4 linked regions of the Homo sapiens genome follow. The protein of the gene in region 4 purifies or fractionates together with the protein of the main gene of each other region. This does not show direct contact. Each region holds a gene or a part of one and is shown on either strand. Other genes may lie near its edges.

Region 1 (2,545 bases), on a different chromosome or scaffold from region 4:
TGGTGTCTATTCTTACCAGATGTATAAAAATGTGAGAGGCCTTGGAGAATCATATCCCAAGAATCAGCAGTTTCTTTTACTGGACCTTTAAGATTGAGACTTGTAAGGTCCTGATGCAGTGACTTGTAAGGTCACTTTGTCTCTCTTGTGAATGTTACTGTTTTTTCTCTTCTGAGGTTATGACCAAAGAATCCTCAAGGCGAGTGATCCTTCAGGTTTGAGACAGCCACATGCAGGAAGACAGGACTTGTAGAGTGTTGGGGCCAAGTGTGTGGTTAGAATCCTTGGGGTGGGGAAAGAGTTTGTTCTAGACTCCAGTGTAGTCCTTGTGGCTACCAGGTCTGACGTGCCAAGGACACGGGAAAGCTGGGAGTGAGGATACTCATAGTCATAGCACCTTACACCAGAATAAAAGTTTTTTTTTTCTTTTTAAGTGATGAGAGAATGGCTAGTCTGATTTTGCCAACATGGGCTGCTATTTGCTTAAGACCTTGATGGTATAAGGAGTGAAGATGCAATCAGGGTAAAAGGCGGTCTGGAGTTGTGGTGTGCTGGCAAACCAGCCCTCTGGGGCAAAAAATTAAAAAGCCTTGATATGGAGTGTTTGCTGATACCTATGATGTAAATATTCCCGCCATGGCCACTTTCCAGCTACCAGCAAGGCATCCTGGCACCAGGGATTGGGAGGAGATGGCATAGTCCTAAGAGTCAGCCTTGGGCATTGGGCCATGTGGGACTGGGCAGTGGGGTATCTGGTCTGGTTCTAAGTGCTGTGATGAAGCAGTAGCAGCTGTAATAGCTGGCATTTCCCGTGTGCTCATCACATAGCAGATGTTATTCCAAGGACTGTATGTTCTTTATCATCCCTCATTTGATAGACAAGACAACTGAGACACAAAAGGGTGAAATAAACAGTAAGTACTCCATCCCAGGCCATCTCATCCAGAGGGTGCTGTCTTGACCACTCTACTACTCTGGTTGATGGGAGGCAGTAAATTGTCCATCAGTATACTTCTTCATCAAAGCTACATAGTCAAAAAGCCACAGGAGGCTGTGAGGAGAAGCTCACTGCTGCTCTGTTGAAGTCTGTATTGGTTTCCTATGGCCACTCTTAACAAATTACCACAACCTCAGTGGCTTAAAACAACACAAATATATCATTCTGTCATCCTGGACACGAGCCAAAGGTTGTCGGCAGAAGCGAATTGCTTCCAGAGGTGCTATAGGGTGCTGCCCATTCCTTGCCCCTTTTCCGCTTCTAGAGGCTGCCCATTTTCCTTGGCTTGTGGCTGCATCATTCTGGCTGCTTCTATTGTCACACCTCCTCTCTGACCCTCCCTGCCTCCTTGTAAGGACACTTGGGATTACGCCCATCCAGATAATCTAGAATAATCTCCCATTTTGTGATTCTTAATAACATCTGCAAAGCCTCTTTTACCTTGCAGAATAAGATATTCACAGGTTCTGGTGAGGAGGACAGGGACATCTCTGAAGGGGAGGGAAGCAGGAGATAGGGTCTGGAGGCATGGAATTGGCTTCCTAAGGCCAATTCAGGCTGACTTCCTAGAACTAAGTCAAAAGGAAAACCCCAACTTTCCACGCTCAAGTAACAAAAGGACCAGAGGCTACTCCCTTTGCAACCTCCCCACCCCCAGCCCCTTTTCTGCATGGCAGGTGAAAAATTGAAAGTATCGCTAATTGATCCCCTCCCACAACCAATCAGACTGGTCTTAGGCCAAGTCTTCATTTGCCTAGGAGTATAACTTTGTAACTTCAGCCTCTGATTGGGCGTTTTACACAACCAGTCAGATGTTTGTATAGGGTGGTGTAACTTTGTAACTTTGCTTCAGCCTCTGATTGGTCCCCTCCCACAACCAATCAAACTGATCATGGACCTCTGCTTCATTTACATAGGGTGTACACCAAGTAACCAATGGGAAACCTCTAGAGGGTATTTAAATCCCAGAAAATTCTGTAACCGGGTTCTTGAGCTGCTTGGGCTGCTCCCACCCTGTGGAGCGTACTTTCGTTTTTCAATAAATCTCTTTTGTTGCTTCATTCTTTACTTGCTTTGTGCGTTTTGTCCATTTCTTTATCAAGACGCCAAGAACCTGGACACCCTCCACCGGTAACAGGAGGAGCATTAGTCAGCCTACCACAGACTCCAACGAACGTTTTTTGAGAGGAAATGAAAGAATATTCCTAAGTTATTGGGTGCCTTTTCTTCAGGAATCCCTGAAAGTGGGGGTTTGCAATTTTCCCTGGATTGAAAACAGAAATGCTTCCTACACAAACATGATTGAGACCTTGTACTCTAGGTGTAAAAAAACAGAGTAGGTCATACTCTGTGGGTTATGGTCAGAGAGATCTGGTTAGAAGTTCCCAGGTAGGCGACAGCCCTAGATGTGTGACACTTCTAGGAGAATCTCTGGCTATGTGGATACGTCCAGGTGTGTAAGGCAGCCTCAGGGACTGCCACCACTTGGTCACATACATGTCCCTCCAACTAATCCTAGCTCTCAAGGACAGGTGGTTCTGGGCCCTG
Region 2 (3,500 bases), on a different chromosome or scaffold from region 4:
TCAAATGCATATTTTTCTCATAAGGAAGAACAGTAGGGAGCTAAAGGACTTTAACTATTTGAGATGCTACATACAAGTTCCTATAAGTTTCTGTCATTTTTTTAACATGCATTTTAACCTTACAGGTAGCAATTTCAGGTGTTAGAGCAAGCTAATTTTTATACTTTGAACTATAAAAATACTGATTTTAAGGTTATGGGCAGAGATTTAGGCAATACTACTGAGCACTGTTACATTTGAAGGATAGCAAATTAGATTTTCAGAAATTATGTGTTATGTATTCTTGTCTAAGATGAAGATGGCTTTTAATTTTGTTTATGTATTTACATGGAGTGGTTCATCTTGCATTTTTGTGATTTTTTTTTTTGGTAGCAATACCTTTTATGCTATTTCAGTGTTGATATAACTTTAATGAAAAAATGTGACTGTAAAAAGCAACTTATTGTGAGTTACACAGCATTAAGTGGGAAAACAAAAGCTACCTACAGTCCTAGATTGGTACAGAATATCTTGATAAAAATTTATTTTTCTCATACATAGGACACTATGTTAAAAACATTCTAAACTTAAAACTACTGTTATGTCTGCTAGTGACTTGTCGTTAGGTGCTTTGGTTGGTTTTTCTCCAGTGGAGTGTTTTTTATAATGTTTTTTTTTCTTTATATTTTAGCCAAGAGTCGAAGCTAAACCAGAAGTTCAATCTCAGCCACCTCGTGTGCGTGAACAACGACCTAGAGAACGACCTGGTTTTCCTCCTAGAGGACCAAGACCAGGTGAGTCAGCTCCTTTATAGCCTTTAGCATTTAACATTTGTAAGGCTGTAAAAGACTGAACTTAAACAAAAAACTATGATGCGTTCTATACACAGACCCATATAGTCTCAAATTGCTTAAAGATGTGATGTGAGCAACCTGCTAAATAGTGTCTGGGGCCAAATAACCAATTTTTAGGGAGGATTGGTTGACATGCCATGGTGACATATTTTGAAGGTGTAAAAGACTTAAGTCTTATTTGGTTATTGTCACGGTTTTTTGTTTTTTTTTTTTGTTTGTTTGTTTTTTTTTTGAGACGGAGTCTTGCTCTGTCGCCAGGCTGGAGTACAATGGCGTGATCTCAGCTCACTGCAACCTCTGTCTCCCGGGTTCAAATGATTCCCTTGCCTCAGCCTCCCAAGTAGCTGGGATTACAGGCACACGCCACCAGGCCCAGCTAATTTTCTGTATTTTAGTAGAGACAGGGTTTCACCATGTTGGCCAAGATGGTCTCGATCTGCTGACCTCATGATCTGCCCTACTCGTCCTCCCAAAGTGCTGGGATTACAGGCATGAGCCACTGTGCCCGGCCTAGTCACTGGTTTTAAGAGTTCAAAACCAAGCTGCCAATAACCTACTCTCTTAGCAGTCTTATCTCTTTACAGATAAACAATAAGCCCATTTTGATTCTTAGGTATTAAGTAAGTTGCCATGATTTTTGACTTGTTTACCTTGTTAGCTACACATGTAATACTTTTATTTGAACTCTGTAAGAATGTTTAGATTGCTTTGGGGAGGAGATGGGAGAGATGGAGATAGTATATATCACATTTACAATGTGAATTTTTAAAGTGATATGTTACCAAACTAGAAGTCCTAAATTTGTCAGTGATTAAACTTGGGATCTTGAGTGAAACCCTTAAATTCTGAGCTTCTTTTATGTCAAATATTACACAAATTATTCTTGTATTGCCTATTTTCCTCACTGTGTTCCTTGTGTTATTGGGAGAATCAAATAAGATTTTATGTATATCTATATACATACACACTTAATATGTATAGACTGCATAAATGTGATGATTGCTGTTAAAATTTACTGATTGCTGTAATGTCATAAAGCCAAAGAATTTTGAATTTCAAAAAACTAAGCAAATATTTAGTAAGCTATACCTCACTATCTGAAATCTGCTTGGTTCCTGGGTGATGGCAACAGTTTGGTTAAGGAGGAATACCTGTAGTACTAATATTTGATTTTTGTATAATCCAGTAGATCTAGAAGAAGCTATTTTAGCAACCTAGTCATTGTCCTCACTTTACATTTTAGTGTCATGCTGTTTTCTAACCTACTAGTAATAAGTACTTTTGCCTCTTTTTCAAGAAGCTCACCTAGTCTTATTAAACTAAAACAGGAATATCAATATTAAGTGATTTTTACATTCACTCCTTTGAAGTAGTTTTTATGATATTGTAAACTTTAGTATCTGCTCTATTTCTATTCTCAGGCAGAGGAGATATGGAACAGAATGACTCTGACAACCGTAGAATAATTCGCTATCCAGATAGTCATCAACTTTTTGTTGGTAACTTGCCACATGATATTGATGAAAATGAGCTAAAGGAATTCTTCATGAGTAAGTGATTTATTTTGCTGTTGGAGTTTTTAAATTATTTTAAATTAAGCAAGAGGCATATGGAGCTTTTTTAATAACTATTTTTTTTAAATGTTTCTCTCTTTATACTGTGTCCAGCTACCAGACCCACCTTAATTGTGCAGAAGGGAGTAGATGACTTATCTCACATGTTTCTCAGTGACTGCTTAGTGTTGATTTGGCCTGGCTCAGTAGTGTTTAGAAGAAACAGCTGGATAAATCAGTCATAAATTCAGAGATAAAGGATTCATTTGGCAAATGGGTCAATATATTAGGAGAAAATACATTGTCTTTCCAAAATTATGCAGTTAACTTTACTTATGAAAGGACTACCAAAGATGCAGAAAGGTAACACAGCAGGCGGGCAGGCTACTTGGTATCTTAGGGGATTGCCTGCTTGAGTAAACGTACCTTGGCTATCACTGTGTGTAGAAGCTTGCGAGTTTTATTTTAAAATGGATCGGGGAGATAACGATATTCATCCTGAACAATTAGAGCCATCAAGGTATTCTGTTAAAAATATTTAACCCTTGATGTAATGTATATTTTCACAGGTTTTGGAAACGTTGTGGAACTTCGCATCAATACCAAGGGTGTTGGGGGAAAGCTTCCAAATTTTGGTTTTGTGGTTTTTGATGACTCTGAACCAGTTCAGAGAATCTTAATTGCAAAAGTAAGTGATTTAAAGGGCATAATTCAAGACTTTATTATTTCTGTTGTATATATTAATTTGGGGTATTTAAAAACCATAGAAAATCTTTTAATAATAAAGCTAAAAATAGTTATTAAATGGTATTTATGCAAAGAATAAAGATTTGTTAGTTTGCAGATCATTTTAAATTTTGTTACTTGCTTTGCTGAAGAAGGTGGGAAAGATTGCAAGATTGCATGTTAAGAATTTTGGCTGGGTATAGTGGCTCACACTTGTAATCCCAGCACTTTGGGAAGTTAAGGCAGAAGGATTGCTTGAGCCCAGGAGAGTTCAAGACCAGCCTGGGCAACAGTGAGACATTGTCTCTACAAAAAAAGAAAAATAGCCGGCCATGGTGGTAGACACCTATAATCCCAGCTACTCAGGAGGCTGAGGTGGGAGTATCAC
Region 3 (3,500 bases), on a different chromosome or scaffold from region 4:
CTGCCTCCGCCTCCTGAGTAGCTGGGACTGCAGGCATGCATCACCATGCTGGCTAATTTTTTAATTTTTTGTAGAGGCTGGGTCTTGCTGTTACCCAGGCTGAGGGTGTTGAACTCCTAGGATTAAACAATTTATTCAGAAGCGACATCATCCAAGAACACCAAGGCAACTTTACGGAGCAAATGTTTTATTTAATAAGTTATAAGATACAATTTACAGTCGGCGTTTGATTCCAGTTTGGCTTCCGTGTCCCAGCTTACAACACCCGTGGTCCTTTCACATCAGGCTCCGGGCTGTTCCACTTTCTGTAGGGTGGGCTTTTACCCCCAACACTCGCCCCAGATACTACACCTGCCACAAGAGTGGCCACTTCCTCAGGACTAAGCAGCAAAACCTAAAGGTCTGCCTGCCCAGACCACACTACACATTTGGGCTCAGGCAACGTCCCTGACACTTTAACCTCATTCCAAAGCCAGCTCAGGTCTGCAGGAAGGCAGGCAAAATTCCCTACACCTCATTTCTGGATTTCTGCACCACACAGCTCTCACTGTTTCTGCCAATGGTGAAAAGACCACCAATAAGCTGCTGCCCTTCTCTCCCCCAACCATTCCCAACTTTCAGGCCAAAGACCCGCAGGAGTTTCATTCTGTCCTGTCTGTACAGATCATTATTTTCCAGAAAAAGTGACCCATGAAGTTGGCTGGGGCGGGTGTGGAGTGTTATGTCATGGGACGGACCTTGGGATGAGGGCGTTAATCCATGGGCCCCTCTGAGATCACTTTAAACATTTTGGTAAGACTGCCCAGGCTGATGAAGGGCTGGAGCGTGTGTTAAAAACAAGGGCTAGTGTTGGTTAAAAGGGATCTTTGGCAAGTGGGAAACTGCTCGCCACTGCAGAATTTCTTCAGACCAAGGAAGGGACTGAAACGGACTTGGAAAACTAAAGCAAAACCATGACTGCCGGGATGGTCTCGTGTGGTGATTCTGCAAGAAATAATCACCAGAGCGAGGGGACAGGTACTTGAGAGACATGTGGGCCTGGCTGCCACTCTGCCCTCTGAGTTTCTGTAGGGTGCCCGGCTGCCACTCTGCCCTCTGAGAAGTGTAAGAAGGCCACAGAGCATGGGGGTGTTGGCGATGAGGAGCGGTAAAGCAGTGCTAGTGATCTAATAGCCAAATACATTAACACGGACACTGGAAGAGATTAAGCGGATTTTAAGTCATCTCCTTTGCCAAATGACAACCAAACTAGGTGTCCCCTTTTTCTCTGCCCATCTTCCCCTAGCCTTGTTTCATAAATGCTGAAGAGTGAACCAGCAGCTCAGGCTAGCCAGTTTTGTTTTTTTGAAATGTCAGTCTCATTGTGTTCCTGGTCTGTCTGCTGCAGTGGCTGGTCTGTTCCACCAAGAGTTCTGGTTTGCACCTAGTGTACTCAGGATCTTCTCAGCCCCCTGAACAAGCTTGCATTTCTTAAGATTCTCCAATATGTCCCTCAAGAGTCCAGTCTAGGACTTATTTCTGAAGGCATTTTACAACAGCAATATTTTAGGGATGGGGTTTCAGCCCCACAAACAGGCTGGAGGGCTTTGTATAAAATGAATTACAAACAAGCAACAAAAGCAACCACAAGAACTCTCTCCAGGATTTGAGAAAACTGTTTTAAGGCACTGTGACATGAAAAGGGCTGCCAGGGATGTGTTCCTCCCCCCACTTCACAGCCAGCACATAATCGCCCCTCTCCTTGACGACGTATGTGACGTTGTATTGCTGGTTGCCTACATGCTTCATGGAGACCTCCTCGCAGGGGGTGGTGGGCCCATGGACCCCGATCAGCAGCATGTTGGAGCCTAGGAGGCAAAAGGTGGTTACTCCACCCGGATGCATCAGGACAGGCACAGGAAGAAGAGGAAATATGAGAGCCAAAGGTAAGGTGCTTCCACGATAATGCTGGGGCCCCTAAGAGGTGGGAGAGCGTGGCAATTACAAGCAGAGGCTCATAGAGCCTGACGGTGTGGGTTCGAATCCCTGCCCTGCCACTTGCTACCTGGGTGACCTTGGACTGGAATCTCACCTCTCCCTAGCTCAGCTTCCCCATCTGTAAACAGGGAATGAGAACAGCACATACCTCACGAACTAGTTGTGAGGTTTAAGAGTTATGGGTGTCAAAACCTAGCACACAGTAAGGGCTATTCTAAGTGTTGGCTATGAGAATCTTCTTGTTTACTCTCACAAGCACCTTAAGGAAGGTACTTCCGAGAAGAGGAAACTGACTTTTGGAAAGAGATTTAATAACTTTCCAAGGTCACATGGCTAAATAAGTTTTAGAACAAACGAATGAATGAATGAAGTGGCGGTACTAGGTTTCCAGCCCAGGTGTACTGGATGCCAGAACCCAGGCAACCGACCCTTGAAACCCAAATAAATACCCAAGTTCAAAAGGCAAAAGAGAAGGAAATCATTTAAAAATATTAAGTGCAGGAGAACAGGGTCATGACGATGGTTACTTGCAAACGGCTGGCCTACATGGGGGTGGGCACTGCAGGAGACCTCAGCAGGGAAGGCCAGTGTACCCAGGGTGCCCAGCCTGCCCCTGCCCCACCCCACCCTTGAAAAGGCCCAGACACCTACCAGCTTTGCTGCAGTCCACCAGGAAGGAACTCTTCTGGCCCACAAAGGCCTTTGAGAGCCCTGCCCCCTTAGAGGTCACCTTGCTGGCGTCCGAGGATGCCTTGGGAATGGCGCTATAGCAGGTCTCTGTAGACGACCTGGTCACTGACTCCACCAGGATGGATGAGGTCTCGTTGGCTGAGCCAGGGCTAACTAGACGCTGGCCTAAGATACAGGAGGGAGGGGGACAGGCATGAATGGCCAGATCAAGAGGGGTCTCTCAGCCAGAGGACAGGCGAGTACCCTACACAGTAACCCCAGGAGAGCCCGCGCACCCCAACACAAAAGCCACCACACCTGTATCTCACACCCATAATGTCTTCTAAACCCCTAGGATCCCACCCCCATACAACTAGGATCTGGCTTTCTGGGCAAATGGATGAGTCTGGCCTTGGCTGACAAGGCCAAGGACCCTCCCAATCCCCCCACCCCCTACCCACCAAAGATGTGCCTGTGGAATTCACATCTTTCTATTGACATAAAATAGTCTATGTATAAGCAGTGTAAAAGTTTGGGATGACATATAATGAAATATCAAAAAATGATTCTGTGGATGAGAAAGGATGATTTTTCTATCTGAATTTTCTAATTTTCCTGCGATGAACCTACATTCTTTATGTAACAGTGAATCATGACGTGTGGAAGGGATTTACTACAGTGTTTATGGTGGTTACCTTGGGTGGTGGCTGTGAAGTGGTTTTCATAGTTTGGTATTTTTTCCAGTGTTTTGGAGGAGACACATTTTTATAAGTATAGGAAAACTTTTTGATTATTTTTCAAGTGAAAATTAGAAATCAGGGGATTTTTCAGACCCTGATCTAAACAAATACGTA
Region 4 (5,231 bases):
TATAATACAGGAGGAGATACAACAAATGGAATATGGAAACCTAGACTGTATTCTGCTTAGGGGGAAAGTATATAAAATATATTCTTGGGACAAATTAGGAAATTGGAATAAGGTCTAGATATTGAATACTATGAAATTGTTTTTATTTCTCTTAGGAGTGATAATGGGTCTTGTGGTTATGTAGGGTATTGTCATTACTGGGAGATACTTTTTTTTTGTATTTTTTTTTTGGTGGGGGATGGCACCAAGCTGAAGTGTTAACTGTACACTCACTCCAGACTCATTGCCTGCCCTTACGCTTGTTCAAATAATTAGAACTAAGCATCTGATGCTTGTTATTTATTTCCACATGGAACAGGAAAAGACTGTATAGGCCAGGCGTGGTGGCTCATGCCTATAATCCCAACACTCTGGGAGGCTGAGGTGGGTGGATCACTAGAGCCCAGAGTTCCAGACCAGCCTGGGCAACATCTCTACAAAAAATACAAAAATTAGCTGGGTGTAATGGCATATGCCTGTACTCCCAGTTACTCTGGAGGCTGAGGTGGGAGGACTACTTGAGCCCAGGAGGCAGAGGCTGCAGTGAACAGAAATTGCGCCACTGCACTCCAGCCTGGGCAATAGAGCCAGGTCCTTAGACCCTGTCTCAAGGGGAAAAAAGAAAGAAAGAAATAGAGAAACAAATAAAAAGTGTATAGGTAAAGAAAGAATGGTTCATGCCTGTAATTGCAGCACTTTGGGAGACTGGGGCAGGAGGATTGCTTGAGCCGAGACGTACAAGACCAGCCTGGGCAACACAGCAAGACCCCGTCTCTACAAAGAATAAAAGGCTGGCTGGGAGCACTGGCTCACGCCTGTAATCCCAGCACTTTGTGGGGGCCGAGACGGGCGGACTGCTTGAGGTCAGGAGTTTGAGACCAGTCTGGCCAATATGGTGAAACCCCGTCTCTACTAAAAATACAAAAATCAGCCAGGCATGGTGGCATGTGCCTGTAATCCCAGCTACTTGGGAGGCTGAGGCACGAGAATCACTTGAACCCGGGAGGCGGAGGTTGCAGTGAGCTGAGATCATGCCACTACACTCCAGCCTGGGTGACAGAGTGAGACTCCGCCTCAAAAATAAATAAATAAATAAAAGGCATAAATGTTACTTAAGATAATAACAAAATCAGTCCACTGAAGGCAGAACAGGTAATGCATATCCATAGAAAATGAAGGTAGAGGGTGAGTAGAAGTCAAATTATGATGGCGCTTAAGAGGTGAGGACATTATCATTACCTTAATTTGTTCCTCGCTGATACTAGGAGTGTTTTTCAAGAGATTCAGAAAAACTCCACCTGGTGTTCTTCTTCGACTACCATTCTACAAAAAGGAACAGAAAAGGTAAACTGCATATACTCTTCCCATAAATGGTCAAGGCATCTTTTAACAGAGACACAATTAAGGGGATAGAAGAAATACCAGATCTGAAGTCCAGTCCTGATTCTGACTCTTACAAAATAGGTAACATGAGTAAATTACCGAAATATGAGTTTCAGTTTCTTCATCTATAAAATGAAGGCCAAAAATATTTGGTCTTTTTTAATTCTGAAATTCCGTGATTTAAAAAATCTATATGGTAACAAAGAGAAATAGGCCACTCAGCTCAAATGACCTAACAAATGACTGGATTTTCTGTTTTAATCTGCCACCTGGCTAAGTCAGTGAATATTCTTTTTTTTTTTTTTTTTTGAGATGGAGTTTCACTCTTTCGCTCAGGCTGGAGTGAAATGGCGCGATCTCGGCTCACTGCAGCCTCTGCCCTCCGGGGTTCAAGCGTTTCTCCTGCCTCAGCCTCCTGAGTAGCTGGGATTATAGGCACTCCCCACCACGCCTGGCGAATTTTTGTATTTTTAGTAGAAACGGGGTTTCGCCATGTTGGCCAGCCTGGTCTCAAACTCCTGACCTCAGGCGATCTGCCCGCCTCAGCCTCACAAAGTGCTAGGATTACAGGTGTGAGCCACCGCACCCACCATGAATATTCTATTAGATGTTAAAACACATCATAAACTCTAAATAATTAAAACAGTATGGTTCCAAAATAAAACTAGAATGATCAGTGAAGCAAAATAGAAAACCTAGAAAAAAAAGCCAAATATATATGGGTATTTAGTCTATGATACAGATACTATCTTAAATTGGAGAAGATAAATGTATTATTCAAGAATTGGCATTTGAGGCTGGGCGCAGTTGCTCACGCCTGTAATCCCAGCACTTTGGACGCCGAGGCGGGTGGATCACCTGAGGTCAGGAATTCAAGACTAGCCTGGTCAACAACATGGTGAAACCCTGTCTCTATCAAAAACACAAAAATTAGCTGGGCATGGTAGCACATATCTGTAATCCCAGCTACTTGGGAGGCTAAGGCAGGAGAATCACTTGAACCCAGGAGGTGGAGGTTGCAGTGAACCGAGACTGTGCCATTGCACTCTAGCCTGGACGACAAGAGCAAACCTCCATTTCATTTTTTTTTTTTTGAGACAAAGTCTCATGCAAACCTCTATTTCAAAAAAAAAAAAAAAAAAGTTGGTGGTTGAGCTACTGGGTAGCCACCATGGAAAATATTATGTTGGATTCACACCTCATGTCTTATACCAAGATATATTCCAAAGGGATCAAATATTTAAATGTATATATATAATAAATCAGATATATATACACACATACAGTGGCTTCTCAATAGTCATGGTAGTTACGTTTTATAAAGTTGCTGCAAACATTGAATTAGCAAATATTGAAACATTCCTTCTGAAAAATACAGGGTTAGGTTCCTGAAAGCCTCTGATAGACAACACTTTTGTCAACAGATCAGTATATAACCTTGTATGTATCTTGGTTTAAAGACACCTTATTGAAAACATATTGTTGATTCATTAACATTGAATTAGTGGCCAACAGCCTATAACTCATGCCTAAACGATGCTTATCTAACCATATTTTCTCTCTAACGCATGTCACAGTCTTCTTGCACTTAGAAACACTAGTTGGCACTACAGCACTACCCTTGGAGGGGCCATTTTAAACAGCAAAATCCCCAGAGGGGCGCAAAAAAAAAAAAAAAAAAGCACAGAATGTGAAAAAGATGGCACTAAAATAGACCTTGAAAAGAACACCTGTTTATAGTATGGAAGCTGAAACAAAGCAATGTTGCCCTGTTTGACCTCAGCTAAGCATGTGCATGTCGGACAACTCAAATTTTTTTAGACACTGCACATCTGTGAATGACTGTGAAACCACCACTAGTATTGATTTGAGGTTATGAATAACTTTTACCAGGTAGGCAAATTTGAAAATATAAAATCTACAAATAATGAGGATCGACTGAGCATGTATGTCATATACACATAGTCATATAAATTATGATATAACTATTCACTGGAATGCTAGCAACTGCAAAAAAGAATGAGGGGGCTCTCTACATACTTGATAAGGTTTCTAAGAGAAATTAAGTTAAAAAAAAAAAGCAAGGTATAGAATAGTATGCATAGTATATGACCATTTGTGTAAAAACAAGTGTGTTAGGGCCGGGTACGGTGGCTCACGCCTGTAATCCCAGCACTTTGGGAGGCCAAAGTGGGCAGATCATGAGGTCAGGAGTTTGAGACCAGCCTAACATGGTGAAACCTTGTTTCTATTAAAAATATAAAAATTAGCTGGGCGTGGTGGTGTGTGCCTGTAATCCCAGCTACTTCGGAGGCTGAGGCAGGAGAATCGCTTGAACCCGGGAGGCAGAGGTTGCAGTAAGCCGAGATCGCACCACTGCACTCTAGCCTGGGTGACAGAGCGAGACTCCATCTCAAAAAAAATAATGGGTGTTGGAGAGGAGTCTGGGTGGCTCAAGGATAGGTGTGGTCCGGGTAGCCTCTCACTACACACTCTTTTACTGATTTTTTATTGTGATAATAAAGACATGACAAAAAAATTTTGTCATCTTCACAATTTTTAAGTGTACAGTTCAGTAGTAAAGTATATTTACACGGTTATAAAACAGATCTCCAAAACTGTTTCATCTTGCAAATCTGAAACTCTGTACACATAAATTTCCCTTAGCCTCCTCCCTTTAGCCCTTGATACTCTTTCTTGTTTTACCATGTGAACTGGTTGCCTATTCAAATAACTGAATTTTTAAAAATAAGGAAATAGGTACATATACACACTTGTGGCCGGGTGCGGTGACTCACGGGTTGGGTGTTGGGTATTATACCCAACACTTTGGGAGGCCGAGACGGGTGGATCACTTGAGGTCAGGAGTTTGAGACCAGCCTGGCCAACATGGTGAAACCCTGTTTCTAATAAAAATACAAAATTAGCTGGACATGGTGGGATATGCCTGTAATCCCAGTTACTCAGAAGGCTGAGGGCAGGAGAATTGTTTGAATCTGGGAGGCAGAGGTTGCAGTGAGCTGAGATGGCAACACTGTACTCCACCCTGGGTGACAGAGCAAGACTGTCTCAAATATATGTTAATTGCAGAAAAAGTAGCAAAAACATGCGGTTAAAAGAAAAAATAGGCGGGGTACAATGGCTCACACCTGTAATCCTAGAGGCAGATGGATTGCTTGAGTGCCCAGGAGTTTGAGACCAGCCTGGGCAACATGGTGAAACCCTGTCTCTACAAAAAATACAAAAATTAGCTGGGCATTGTGGCTTAAGCCTATAGTCCCAGCTACTTGGGAGACTGAAGTGGAAGGACTGCTTGAGCCAGGGAGGTCGAGGCTGCAGTGACCTGCGATTGTGCCACTGTACTCCAGCCTGGATGACAGAGTGAGACCCTGTATCAAAAAGGAAAAAAAAAAAGAAAGAAAGAAAAAGAAAAGAAAAAAACCACCCATGATCCTACTAACCATAGGTAATCACTGTAACATTTTGACACATATAATCTTTTTACTTTTTTCTGACACAGTCTCGCTCTTCACCCAGGCTGAAGTGAGGTGGTGTGATCATGCCTCACTGCAGCTCGACCTTCTGGGCTCAAGGGATCCTCCCACCTCCTTAGCCTCCCAAGTAGCTGGGACTACAAGCATGTGCCACAACATACAGCTAATTTTTGTATTTTTTTGGTAGAGATAAGGTTTCACCATGTCACCCAGGCTGGTCTCAGGATTACACACGTGTGAGCCACCACACCTGGACATCTTTTTACTTTTTTATATGCCACATATATTTGTAACTCCAACCCCAAATGGGATTCT

What was found. Proteins that work in one complex are often made in the same cells at the same time.
Region 1: the proteins of PHAX (region 4) and LIMD1 purify together in Homo sapiens (affinity purification with mass spectrometry; one large-scale study listed by BioGRID and IntAct). This does not show direct contact.
Region 2: the proteins of PHAX (region 4) and G3BP2 fractionate together in Homo sapiens (co-fractionation; one large-scale study listed by BioGRID). This does not show direct contact.
Region 3: the proteins of PHAX (region 4) and FLNB purify together in Homo sapiens (affinity purification with mass spectrometry; one large-scale study listed by BioGRID and IntAct). This does not show direct contact.

The regions. Positions count from the first base shown.
Region 1 is NC_000003.12:45,681,751-45,684,295, forward strand, and holds part of LIMD1 (LIM domain-containing protein 1), read left to right. Parts: 3' UTR 1-2,545. UniProt on the Homo sapiens protein: Adapter or scaffold protein which participates in the assembly of numerous protein complexes and is involved in several cellular processes such as cell fate determination, cytoskeletal organization, repression of gene transcription, cell-cell adhesion, cell differentiation, proliferation and migration.
Region 2 is NC_000004.12:75,645,912-75,649,411, reverse strand, and holds part of G3BP2 (ras GTPase-activating protein-binding protein 2), read left to right. Parts: intron 1-670; coding exon 671-773; intron 774-2,254; coding exon 2,255-2,383; intron 2,384-2,955; coding exon 2,956-3,074; intron 3,075-3,500.
Region 3 is NC_000003.12:58,168,922-58,172,421, reverse strand, and holds the end of FLNB (filamin-B), read right to left. Parts: intron 2,833-3,500; coding exon 2,629-2,832; intron 1,926-2,628; exon of another isoform or gene 1,848-1,925; coding exon 1,660-1,847; 3' UTR 646-1,659; coding exon of another isoform or gene 549-645; 3' UTR 352-548; coding exon of another isoform or gene 261-351; 3' UTR 171-260; downstream 1-170. Other genes in the region: uncharacterized protein LOC124909485, read right to left, coding at 261-351, 549-645. UniProt on the Homo sapiens protein: Connects cell membrane constituents to the actin cytoskeleton. May promote orthogonal branching of actin filaments and links actin filaments to membrane glycoproteins. Anchors various transmembrane proteins to the actin cytoskeleton.
Region 4 is NC_000005.10:126,613,381-126,618,611, reverse strand, and holds part of PHAX (phosphorylated adapter RNA export protein), read right to left. Parts: intron 1,363-5,231; coding exon 1,279-1,362; intron 1-1,278. UniProt on the Homo sapiens protein: A phosphoprotein adapter involved in the XPO1-mediated U snRNA export from the nucleus.